Linked DNA regions of Homo sapiens. The protein of the gene in region 1 interacts with the protein of each later gene in a pairwise test. Each region holds a gene or a part of one and is shown in the gene's direction. Other genes may lie near its edges.

Evidence for each region.
Region 2: the proteins of LGALS9B (region 1) and NLRP12 interact in a two-hybrid assay, tested with the Homo sapiens proteins (one large-scale study listed by IntAct).
Region 3: the proteins of LGALS9B (region 1) and APPL2 interact in a two-hybrid assay, tested with the Homo sapiens proteins (one large-scale study listed by IntAct).

The regions. Positions count from the first base shown.
Region 1 is NC_000017.11:20,461,040-20,464,539, reverse strand, and holds part of LGALS9B (galectin-9B), read left to right. Parts: intron 1-3,500.
Region 2 is NC_000019.10:53,817,815-53,821,314, reverse strand, and holds part of NLRP12 (NACHT, LRR and PYD domains-containing protein 12), read left to right. Parts: intron 1-2,222; exon of another isoform or gene 2,223-2,431; intron 2,432-3,500. UniProt on the Homo sapiens protein: Plays an essential role as an potent mitigator of inflammation. Primarily expressed in dendritic cells and macrophages, inhibits both canonical and non-canonical NF-kappa-B and ERK activation pathways.
Region 3 is NC_000012.12:105,194,675-105,198,174, reverse strand, and holds part of APPL2 (DCC-interacting protein 13-beta), read left to right. Parts: intron 1-221; coding exon 222-410; intron 411-2,547; coding exon 2,548-2,590; intron 2,591-2,648; coding exon of another isoform or gene 2,649-2,673; coding exon 2,674-2,730; intron 2,731-2,825; coding exon 2,826-2,914; intron 2,915-3,500. UniProt on the Homo sapiens protein: Multifunctional adapter protein that binds to various membrane receptors, nuclear factors and signaling proteins to regulate many processes, such as cell proliferation, immune response, endosomal trafficking and cell metabolism.

The DNA.
Region 1 (3,500 bases):
AAAATCATCGTGTGAGCAAGGTTGTTTCCTTCCGGAGGCTCCAGGGGAGAATCTGTTTCTTTTGCTTTTCCAGCTTCTAGAGGCTGCCTGCCTGCCTTGGCTTATGACCCCTCCTGCCATCTTTAAAACCAGCAGCTTTGTCTGGGTGCAGTGGCTCATGCCTGTAATCCCAGCACTTTGGGAAGCTGAGGCAGGAGGATCTCTTTAGCCCAGGAGTTGGAGACCAGCCTGGGCAACAAACTGAGACTGTGTCTCTACAAAGAATAGACAAAAATTAGCCAGGCATGGTGGTGCATGCCTGTAGTCCCAGCTACCTGGGAGGCTGAGGTGGGAGGATCGCGTGAGCCTGGGGAAGTGGAGGCTGCAGTGAGCTGAGATCATGCCACTGCACTCCAGCCTGGGTGACAGAATGAGATCCTGTCTCAAAAAAAAAAAAAAAAAAAAAACACAACAAACAAACAAACAAAACCCCCAAAACCAGCTTCTTGCTTCTGTTGTCACATCTCTTACCTCTGACTTTGATCCTCCTGCTCCCTTTTATAGGACCTTTGTGATTACATTGGGACCACCTGTATAATCCAAGACAATCTCCCCATGCCAAAATTATGCATTTAATCACATCTGCAAAGTCCCTTCTACAACATATTCACAGTTTCCGGGGATTCGAATGTGGATGTTTCTGGGGGGTCGCCCACTGATAACCAGTATTATAAGTTTCTTGTAAATCCTTCCAGAGATATTTTATCTATAAATAAATAAATGCAAGTCCATAGCCTTCCCCTACCCACTTTTTATGCAAATGGCATTATTCCATATCGGTGCTCAGAGTTTTCCTCTTTTTCTTTTTTCTTTTCCGTCTTCTTTTTCTTTTCTTTTGAAAGCTACACAGAACTTATTCTATTATATGGAAATACCCTAATTTATTTCACCTTTTCCCTGTTGGAAGACTTTTAGGCTCCTTCCAATGCTTTGCTTTATAATCCTTTGTGTTATAATGCTGCAATGAATAACCTTGTTTGTTGGATGATATTCAATTTAAAATCTCATTTTTCAGGACAGGCATAGTGGTTCATGTCTGAAATCCCGGCCCTTTGGGAGGCCAAGACAGAAGGATCACTTGAGCCCAGGTGTTCAAGACCAGCCCTGGCAACATATCGAGACCTGGTCTTTTCAAAAAAATTTGAAAATTAGTGGGGTATGGCTTGGTGGCCTGCACTTATTTGGTCTCAGCTGCTCGGGAGGCTGAGGTGGGAGGATTACTTGAGCACAGGAGGTGGAGGCTGCAGTGATCCATGATCACACTCCTCACTGCACTCCAGCCTGGGCAACAGAGTGAGAACCCATCTCAAAATAAAATAAAATAAAATAAATAATAAAATAATCTTGTTTTTCAGAAATTGGGGGTGCCATTTAAGACATTTTGAAACCTCACAGAACTTTTTTGGGGAACTTGTTGCCTTGGAGATTAGCCTGCCCTGTCCTGCCCCCATGACCTGTACTTGGTCTTTCTCCCTCCTGGCTTCCTTAGTTAAGCCTTGTGTGGACTTGCGAGCCCATGTCCATCACTCTCTGCCTTCAATTCTAGGTGCTGTGGTGTGAATACGCTTGAGTGGAGGCCGCATGCTTCCCAGGAGGGTGTGTATTTTCAGCGTTGTCTCTCATGATAGAATGAAAGGCTCTGGAGGGAATCACAGGCTGCCACAAACAGGCAAGGGGAAAAATCTTCCACAGACGTGTTTCAGGGACAACAGGCTTCCCAATCCTAGCCCATGCTGGCCCATAACTGGATCAGGCTGACTCTCCTTCCCCCACACCGCTGGTGTAGACAGGGACAAGAAAGAGAAGTCAGAGACACAGAGAAGCTGTGATTTGCTTGAGGTCACCAAAGTATTTAATGGCAGAGTTCAGACCTGACCTGAGGGGCAAGAAAAGACAACCCCCTCAAATCCATGGGGAGCAGAGACTATCTGGATCAGATCTCAGATTGCCTGGGGCTTTCACGGTGCCAGGTGTGTACACTGAGCTAGGATGGGTTTCCCAGGGTGCTGTGTGGTCACATAACTCAACAATACAGACCAGAAAGCAGTGACCAGTAGGCTGAATTTGGCTAGTGGGTGTTTTCTGTTTGGCCTACACAGTGTTTACTTTAACTTGTTATTATAGGAAATTCAAACATGCAGAGAGAATTGTACCATCAACAACACACACCCATCACTCTGCTCCAACAATGATCAACTCAGGCCTATCTTGCTTCATCCTGTACCCTCCCTCGCTTGCTTCTCTTCCCACCTTCAGATATGCGGAAGCAAATCCAGAGATTTCATTCCATTGTAAATATTTCATTGTGTATCTCTACAATGTGGGAATTTGGGGAGTTTCATTTGAGACAGGGTCTCGCTTTGTTGCCCAGGCTGGAGTGCAGTGGTGCAATCGTGGCTCACTACAGCCTCGACCTCCCAGGCTCAAGTGATCCTCCCACCTCAGCCTCCCAAGTAACTGGGGTTAAAGGTGTGCACCACCACATCTGGCCAATTTTTTTATTTTTTGTAGAGATGGGGGTCCCACTATGTTGCCCAGGCTGGCCTAAAACTCCTGGGCTCAAGTGATTGTTTTACCTCAGCCTCCCAAAATGCTGGGATTATAGATGTGAGCCACTGTGCCCAGTCAGGAACTTTTACATAATCCTTTTTGACAAAAGATTTCCCCCAAGAAATTAGAAAGTTTTACAAAAAAAAAAAAAAAAAAAAATTCAGGTTTCTGTCTCATCTTAAAAATTTGGAAGTTCTGCCAATACTAAGCCCAGATGGTAATCATTGGTTAGTGCTGAGAAGATGTTGACTTTTTAGATGAGGCGTGTGACGTCTACTTTGCCACAGTCCCCACCACTCCCTACCTGGCCATCTGACTCATACACATCACCTGCCTGGCTTCTTTAGGCATTTAATTTGTGTAGGAAATTGACCTAAAGGAGATATTAGAGAAGACATTAAAAACTTGAAGAATGTGAAAATCAGCCATGAGATAGAACTGTGCTTTAATGCAGGTTATAGAACCACACCGGATATGAGGCATTTCGGAATAAACTTTGAAGATTGGAAGTACCAGTTTGTGAATTTTGCTCAGAGAGACCAAGGTGGGGGTGGGTGACAGTGGTGAAGCGTCTCCTCTGTGCCAGTCTCTTCTACCACAGGCTTTTTCTCACAAAATCATCAATCATATGCAGTAGGAGAAACACCTTCCTATTTTACAGATGAGGAAACTGAGGCAAAGAGAGGTGAAATAGGCTTCCCAAGGCCACTCAGGTCAGGAGCAGCAGAGTTAGGATTCAGACCTGGAGTCCGCCTGACTCCAAAACGATGCATGCCTCACCATGGCCCATAGCTCCTTTAAAGAGGCGCGGAAGAGAGAATTTGACAAAGTGCTTGCCCACGGGGCCTGGGATGGGTGGGGAAACTACGCTGGGGCTCGGGGCTGCGGAGGGCATCTGGGAAGAGGCTCTG
Region 2 (3,500 bases), on another chromosome or scaffold:
TGTAATCCCAGCACTTTGGGAGATTGAGGTGGATGGATCACCTGAGGTCAGGAGTTCGAGACCAGCCTGGCCAACATGGTGAAACCCTGTCTCTACTAAAAATACAAAAAAATTAGCCGGGTGTGGTGGCGGGCGCCAGTAATCCCTGCTAATCTAGAGGCTGAGACAGGAGAATCACTTGAACCCAGGCGGTGGAGGTTGCAGTGAGCGAAGATTAAGCCACTGCACTCCAGCCTGGGTGACAGAGTAAGACTCTGTCTCAAAAAAAAAAAAAAAAAAAAAAGAAAAAATATGATTTATACTCAGGCATAAGCTCAAGAGATAATACATGCAAAGTGCTTAACACAATTCAGAGCAGGTAGCAAGTGCTCAGCAAATATAGGCTATTGCTGAAGTGGCAGAGATGGCACTTGAGCTGTGGAATTGTTTTTTTAAAAATATTTTTATTTTTTACAAAAAATTAGCTGGGCGCAGTGATGGGCGCCTGTAGTCCCAGCTACTCAGGAGGCTGAGGCAGGAGAATGGCGTGAACCTGGGAGGCAGAGCTTGCGGTGAGCTGAGATTGTGCCACTGCACTCCAGCCTGGGTGACAGTGCAAGACTCCGTCTCAAAAAAAAAAAAAATAATTTATTTTTTAGAGATAGGGTCTCACTATGTTGCCCAGGCTAGACTCAAACTCCTGGGCTGAAGTGATCCGCCTGCCTCAGCCTCTTGAACAGCTGGAACTACAGGTGTGCACCACAGAGCCCCATTTGAGCTGTGGTTTTTTGTTTTGTTTTGTTTCTGAGACAGAGTCTCACTCTGTCGCCCAGGCTGGAGTGCAGTGGCACAATCTTGGCTCAGTGCAAGCTCCGCCTCCCGGGTTCCAGTGATTCTCCTGCCTCAGCCTCCTGAGTAGCTGGGACTACAGGTGCGTGCCACCACACCCAGCTAATTTTTGTATTTTTAGTAGAGACGGGGTTTCACCGTGTTGGTCAGGCTGGTCTCGAACTCCTAACCTCAGGTGATCCATCCACCTCGGCCTCCCAAAATGCTGGAATTACAGGCGTGAGCCACTGCACCCTGCTTGAGCTGTGGTTTTTAATGTAATTTCTCACCTGTTTTCTCTACTGTGACATGGACGCCTTCAAAGGCAGAAAGAGTCTTGACTCCCCTGTGTGATTCTCTGCGATTCCAGTGTCTGGCTGGGGCTAGGAACCGAGCAAACTTTGGTGAACATTTGCTGAATGAGTAAGCAAGCCCTGCCAATAACTGGATATACACAGTCACTTCTGCAAAGCTTAATGACTCGTCGTTAATGAGGTGTGCCAGTAGTAGTGTGCTGGGAAACATCTCTGTAAAAAACAAAGTCTTTAATGACTGAAAAAACCAAAGACACTTGTTTGTAGCCTTTCTTCCCTCCTTCCTTCCTTCTTTTCCCTTCTTTTCCCTTTCCTTCCCTCCTTCCTTTCTTTTCTTTTCTCTCCCTCTCCTCTCTTTTTCTCTTTCCCTTTTCTCCACCACCCAGGAGACGGAGGTTGTGGTGAGCCAAGATCCCGCCACTGCACTCCAGCCTGGACAAGAAGAGCAAAACTCCGTCTTAATATACATACATACATATATATATACGTGTGTGTGTGTGTATATATATGTATACATACATATATGTATACATGTGTATATATATACGTATACATACATATATACGCGTATATACGTATACATACATATATATGCGTATATACGTATACATACATATATACGCATATATATACGTATACATACATATATATACGTATACATACACACATATATACACATATGTATACATATATATACACATATGTATATACACACACACACACACACACACACACATATATATATATATATATATATATATATATATATATATATATATATATTAGCCAGGCGTAGTGGCACACGCCTGTAATCCCAGCTACTTGGGAGGCTGAGGCAGGAGAATCACTTGAACCCGGGAGGCGGAGGTTGCAGTGAGCCGAGATCACGCCACTGCACTCCAGCCTGGATGACAAAAGCGAGACTCCATCTCAAAAAAAGAAAAGAAAGAAAAAAGTATCAATTTACTTACTTGTCATATTGTATAATTATATCTAAATGGAAGTGTTACATAGTTATTTTAAGAAATGGAAATAATGTACAAATATAGAATCAAAAGTAAAGTCCCACTTTTCTCCCTCTTCCGCCTAAATCTCTCCCAGCATTGACAATGCATAACCATTTGCCGAGCGTTCTTCCCCGGACTGCATCCGTTTAGTCTACTGAGAGGCAGCTCAGCGTTCCCAAGGAGACAGATGTCTAGCTTTGCTCTTTCTGTCTGTGTGATGCTGGAGAATCGATATGCCCCTGGGCCTCCATCTCCATCTGTAAAACAAGGGCATCAGGCAAGATCGGCAGTTCTCATGTTACTGTGCGTAAGAGTCTCTCGAGACACTTGTGGCCAATGGGGAATCCAAGACCCTCAACCCGTGATTCTGAATCAGCAGGTCTTAGGCAACAGGAATCTGCATTTTGATGTGGCTGGTTCTCGCGGCATGCCTAGGAAACACTGAGGGAGAACATCTCTGAGGCCTTTTTCAGCTGCAATTTTCAAGAATTACCTTTTTTATTTTTATTTATTTATTTTTTTGAGACGGAGTCTCACTCTGTCACCCAGGCCGGAGTGCAGTGGTGCGTTCTCGGCTCACTGCAACCTCCGCCTCCCGGGTTCAAGCGATTCTCCTGCCTCAGCCTCCCGAGTACCTGGGACTACAGGCACCCGCCACCACGCCCGGCTAATTTCGTATTTATAGTAGAGATGGGGTTTCACCATATTAGCCAGGATGGTCTCAATCTCCTGACCTCATGATCCACCCACCTCAGCCTCCCAAAATGTTGGGATTACAGGCGTGAGCCACCGCGCTGGCCTGGATTACCTTTAAAAAAAAAAAATGTGGCCACACCTATAATCCCAGCACTTTGGGAGGCTGAGGCAGGCAGATCACTTGAGCCCAGAAGTTTGAGACTGGTCTAGGCAACATGGCAAAACCCCTTCTCTACAAAATTGACCAGGCACAGTGGTGCATGCCTGCAGACCCAGCTACCTGGGAGGCTGAGATGGGAGGATCACTTAAGCCCAGGAGGTGAAGGCTGCAGTGAGCCAAGATCATGCCACACTACTCCAGCCTGAGCAACAGAGCAAGACCCTCTCTCAAAAAAAAAAAAAAATTGCCAACCAGCTGCAGTGGCTCATGCCTGTAATCCCAGCATGTTGGAGGCTGAGGCACGTGAATCACTTGAGACTAGGAATTTGACAACAGCCTGGCCAACATGGTGAAACCCTGTCTCTACTAAAAATACAAAAATTAGCTGGTCGTGGTTGTACATGCCTGTAATCCCAGCTACTCCGGAGGCTGAGGCAGGAGAATCACTTGAACCCTGGAGGCAGAGGTTGCAGTGAGCCAACATCACACCAGCCTGGACGACACAGTGAGACTCTG
Region 3 (3,500 bases), on another chromosome or scaffold:
GGTGTCTCCCTTGGAAGCAGAGCCCATGATCTCCCAGATCATTCCAGCTAAATTGTACCCTTCTGCTGCTCTTTCCACTTGAATGGGCAGTTTTGCTTTAACGATATAAAGAAACACATTATTTCTAAAATGCCACCAGTACCCATAACGAGGTAGCAAGACTTGGAGGTGGCCGCTGGTGCTTTCTGGTACTAATGGGCTTTTTAAAACACAACTCACAGCAAAACAGGGCTGGTCACCACCACCTGGGAGAGGCTTTATTTCTTCACCCAAGGCGGGAATCTCATGTGTCAGCCCAGGGGAGCCGTGGCTGGAGGTTTGATCCAGGACCTGGACAACTGCTCAGTGATGGCCGTGGATTGCGAAGACCGGCGCTACTGCTTCCAGATCACCACGCCCAATGGAAAATCGTATGTTTCACGCGTTTTATTTGGGAGGAGAATGAGTATAGTGGTTCCACCCGTTCCAAGGGCCTCCTAGTTCATTCCTATGTGCCAGCCCTCTGTGGGAGAGGCCCCAATCTGGGTATTGTTGACCTTTCAGGAGGATGATTTTCTGCTCTCTTTAAACAAGCCCGCATGACCCATAAGGGATCCAGCCTGCCTTATCCCATATGGAGATAAGTGAGGGTTTGTCTGTGGCTTTGGAGAAGAGATGACCTACGTGTGTGAGACAGCAACAGAAGTCGTGCTTGTTAGCATAGATTCTCAGAGAGAGAAGGCTGTGGCTACTCCTAGCCTGTTGTAAAGAAGCATTTGTGTTTGGATTGCAGCAGGGGAGAGTAACTATTTTGGTAAGGACGACCTTCCTGAGAAGGCCATTTTTCCAGCAGAAGCAGGAGTTGTGAGAAGTGTACTCCACTGCAGCAGCATCGTCGGCTGCCAGGCTGTTCCCACATGTCCTGTGTACCTGAGGGGCCCCAAAGAGGTGGTACTTTACCAATCCGCAGGCTGTGGCCATTCACAGTAGATCCCATCCCAGTGGGATCCCCTCTCAGAGTGGTGGTTTTTAAACTGCTCCAAGGAGTTCAGGGTCCCATGGAGGGGCTTCAGGGTCCCATGGAGGGGCTTCAGGGTTCACCTGCCTGGGGAGAGGAGTGGCCCTGCCCGTCATCAGAGCCGCTCTTCTCACACTGCATTCTATTAAGATTTGACCTGAACAGCAGGGGTAGGGGTGGGGACGGCATTGGGATGATGTCTCTCCTCCCAGCTTGGCAGAGCAGCTTTAGACCTCATCCTTCCTGCTTTGGTGATGGGAAATGACCTGGGAATGGAGATTCCTGGATGCTCATCATGGTCCTTTGCAGTTACCTCCTCTGGGCCTCACTTTCCTCAGATATAAAATAGGGATAAGATCTATGTTACTCCATCTGCCACAGATGAGAGGAACAAGGGAACTGGCAGATGTGGGGTCTCTTTAAAAAGTTAAAGCCTCGGCTGGGTACAGTGGCTCACGCCTATAATCCCAGCACTTTGGGAGGCCGAGGCAGGTGGATCCCCTGAGGTTGGGAGTTTGAGATCAGCATGACCAACATGGAGAAACCCCGTCTCTACTGGAAATACAAAATTGGCCGGGCACGTTAGTGGTGGCGCATGCCTGTAATCCCAGCTACTCAGGAGGCTGAGGCAGGAGAATCGCTTGAACCTGGGAGGCGGAGGTTGTGGTGAGCCGAGATCACACCATTGCACTCCAGCCTGGTGCAACAAGAGCAAAACTCCATCAAAAAAAAAAAAAAAAAAAAAAAAAAAAGAGTTAACGCCTCCACAAAGGTAGGGCAGTATTACTGTTACCTTATTCCCGGGCCTCCATACGCAGCAGACTTTTCAGTTCTGGGAAAGGAGTGAATGGGCTGCCAAGTCCTTCTTTGGGCATGGTTTGAGGAGTGGCTGGGCTTGGAGTCCTGGTCATCTTGGATCATTAGAGGAGGTCAACAGGTGGATCTCACTGTACAAACACAGATTTGGGCTAGAAGATCCGAGTCCCGCCTTCTCATTTCATAGATGAACATGCTGAGGCCCAGGGAAACGGCCATGTTTGTCCAAGATCACATAGTGAATCAGGGCAGAGCCAGACCTACAAGCCCATTTTCTTTTTTCTTTTTCTTTTTTTTTTTTTTGTTTGAGATAGGGCCTTGCCCTATCACCCAGGCTGGAGTGCAGTGGCACAGTCACCACTCACTGCAGCCTCAGCCTCCTGGGCTCGATCGATCCTCCCACTTCAGCCTCTCTAGTAGCTAGGACTACAGGCACACGCCACCACGCCCAGCTAATTTTTGTATTTTTTGTAGAGAGGGGGTTTCACCATGTTGCCCAGGCTGGTCTCGAACTCCTGGGCTCAAGCCATCCTCCTGCCTCACCTTCCCAAAATGCTGGGACTGCAGGCATGAGCCACTGCACCTGGCCCTGGAACCCCATTTTCTTTCCCTCTCATCATGCTGCCTTCATGGCACTTTTCCTCCCACACCCCAGCTAAGTTCAGTTTATGTAGAGAAATTCCCAGTCACTGAGATCAGGGAAGCACTTAATTACTTAGACACTTTTGTTTCAGGGGAATAATCCTCCAGGCTGAGAGCAGAAAGGAAAATGAAGAGGTAAAAATTTTGTTTGTCATATTTCTTTCCTAACGTGGTGGGTGACTTTGGGATTCAGTGTTCTTTTTTAATGTCCTCTACAGTGGATATGTGCAATAAACAACATCTCCAGACAGATCTACCTGACCGACAACCCTGAGGTAATTATCAGCCACCGGCATCTCAGCCCTTTTCTCAACCTGGAAGGTAAGCGTCCACCTCCTGGGACTGAGTGTGTCTTCCTGTGGATTTTTAGGCAGTCGCGATCAAGTTGAATCAGACCGCTCTGCAAGCAGTGACTCCCATTACAAGTTTTGGAAAAAAACAAGAAAGCTCATGCCCCAGGTAACTAAAGGACAAAGAAAAACTAGCTTTTGTGGAGCCAAATTATTGATTAGGAATACGAAATGAGTTGTTGCTTAATCCACACAAACCAAGGCATGTTTTTCAGCCTGTTTAACAGAAGCAGTAACGATGGCTGGGAAAGGTTAAATACCTGCCTGTGTTCACACCACATTGTGAGTGGTAGAGCCAGGATTCAAGCCTGTCTGATGTCAGCATCCCTGTCCTTTCCACTGGACCATGCTGCTGCAGTCCAAGCAAACAGGACGTGCATGGAGGGTCCTCCTAGTCAGGAGTTCTCCCCACATTTTCTATCAGTGTCAACAAAGTAAGGGAACGAAAGCAAAAATGTTTTTAAAAAATAAGGAAAAAAAAATCGCCTTTTATGTATCCCATGTTAATGTCCACGCCTTATCTGAACATACAGTGATAGTTTTATATGTACATTTATTTTGTATTTGCACATACTTTTTTTTTTTTTAACTATTTCTACATTTTTCAGAATTGTTCCTTTTAGTAACTACACCCTATTCCATCATTTATTTTTTTACTTACTTATTTTTTAATTTTTTCGAGACGGAGTCTCACT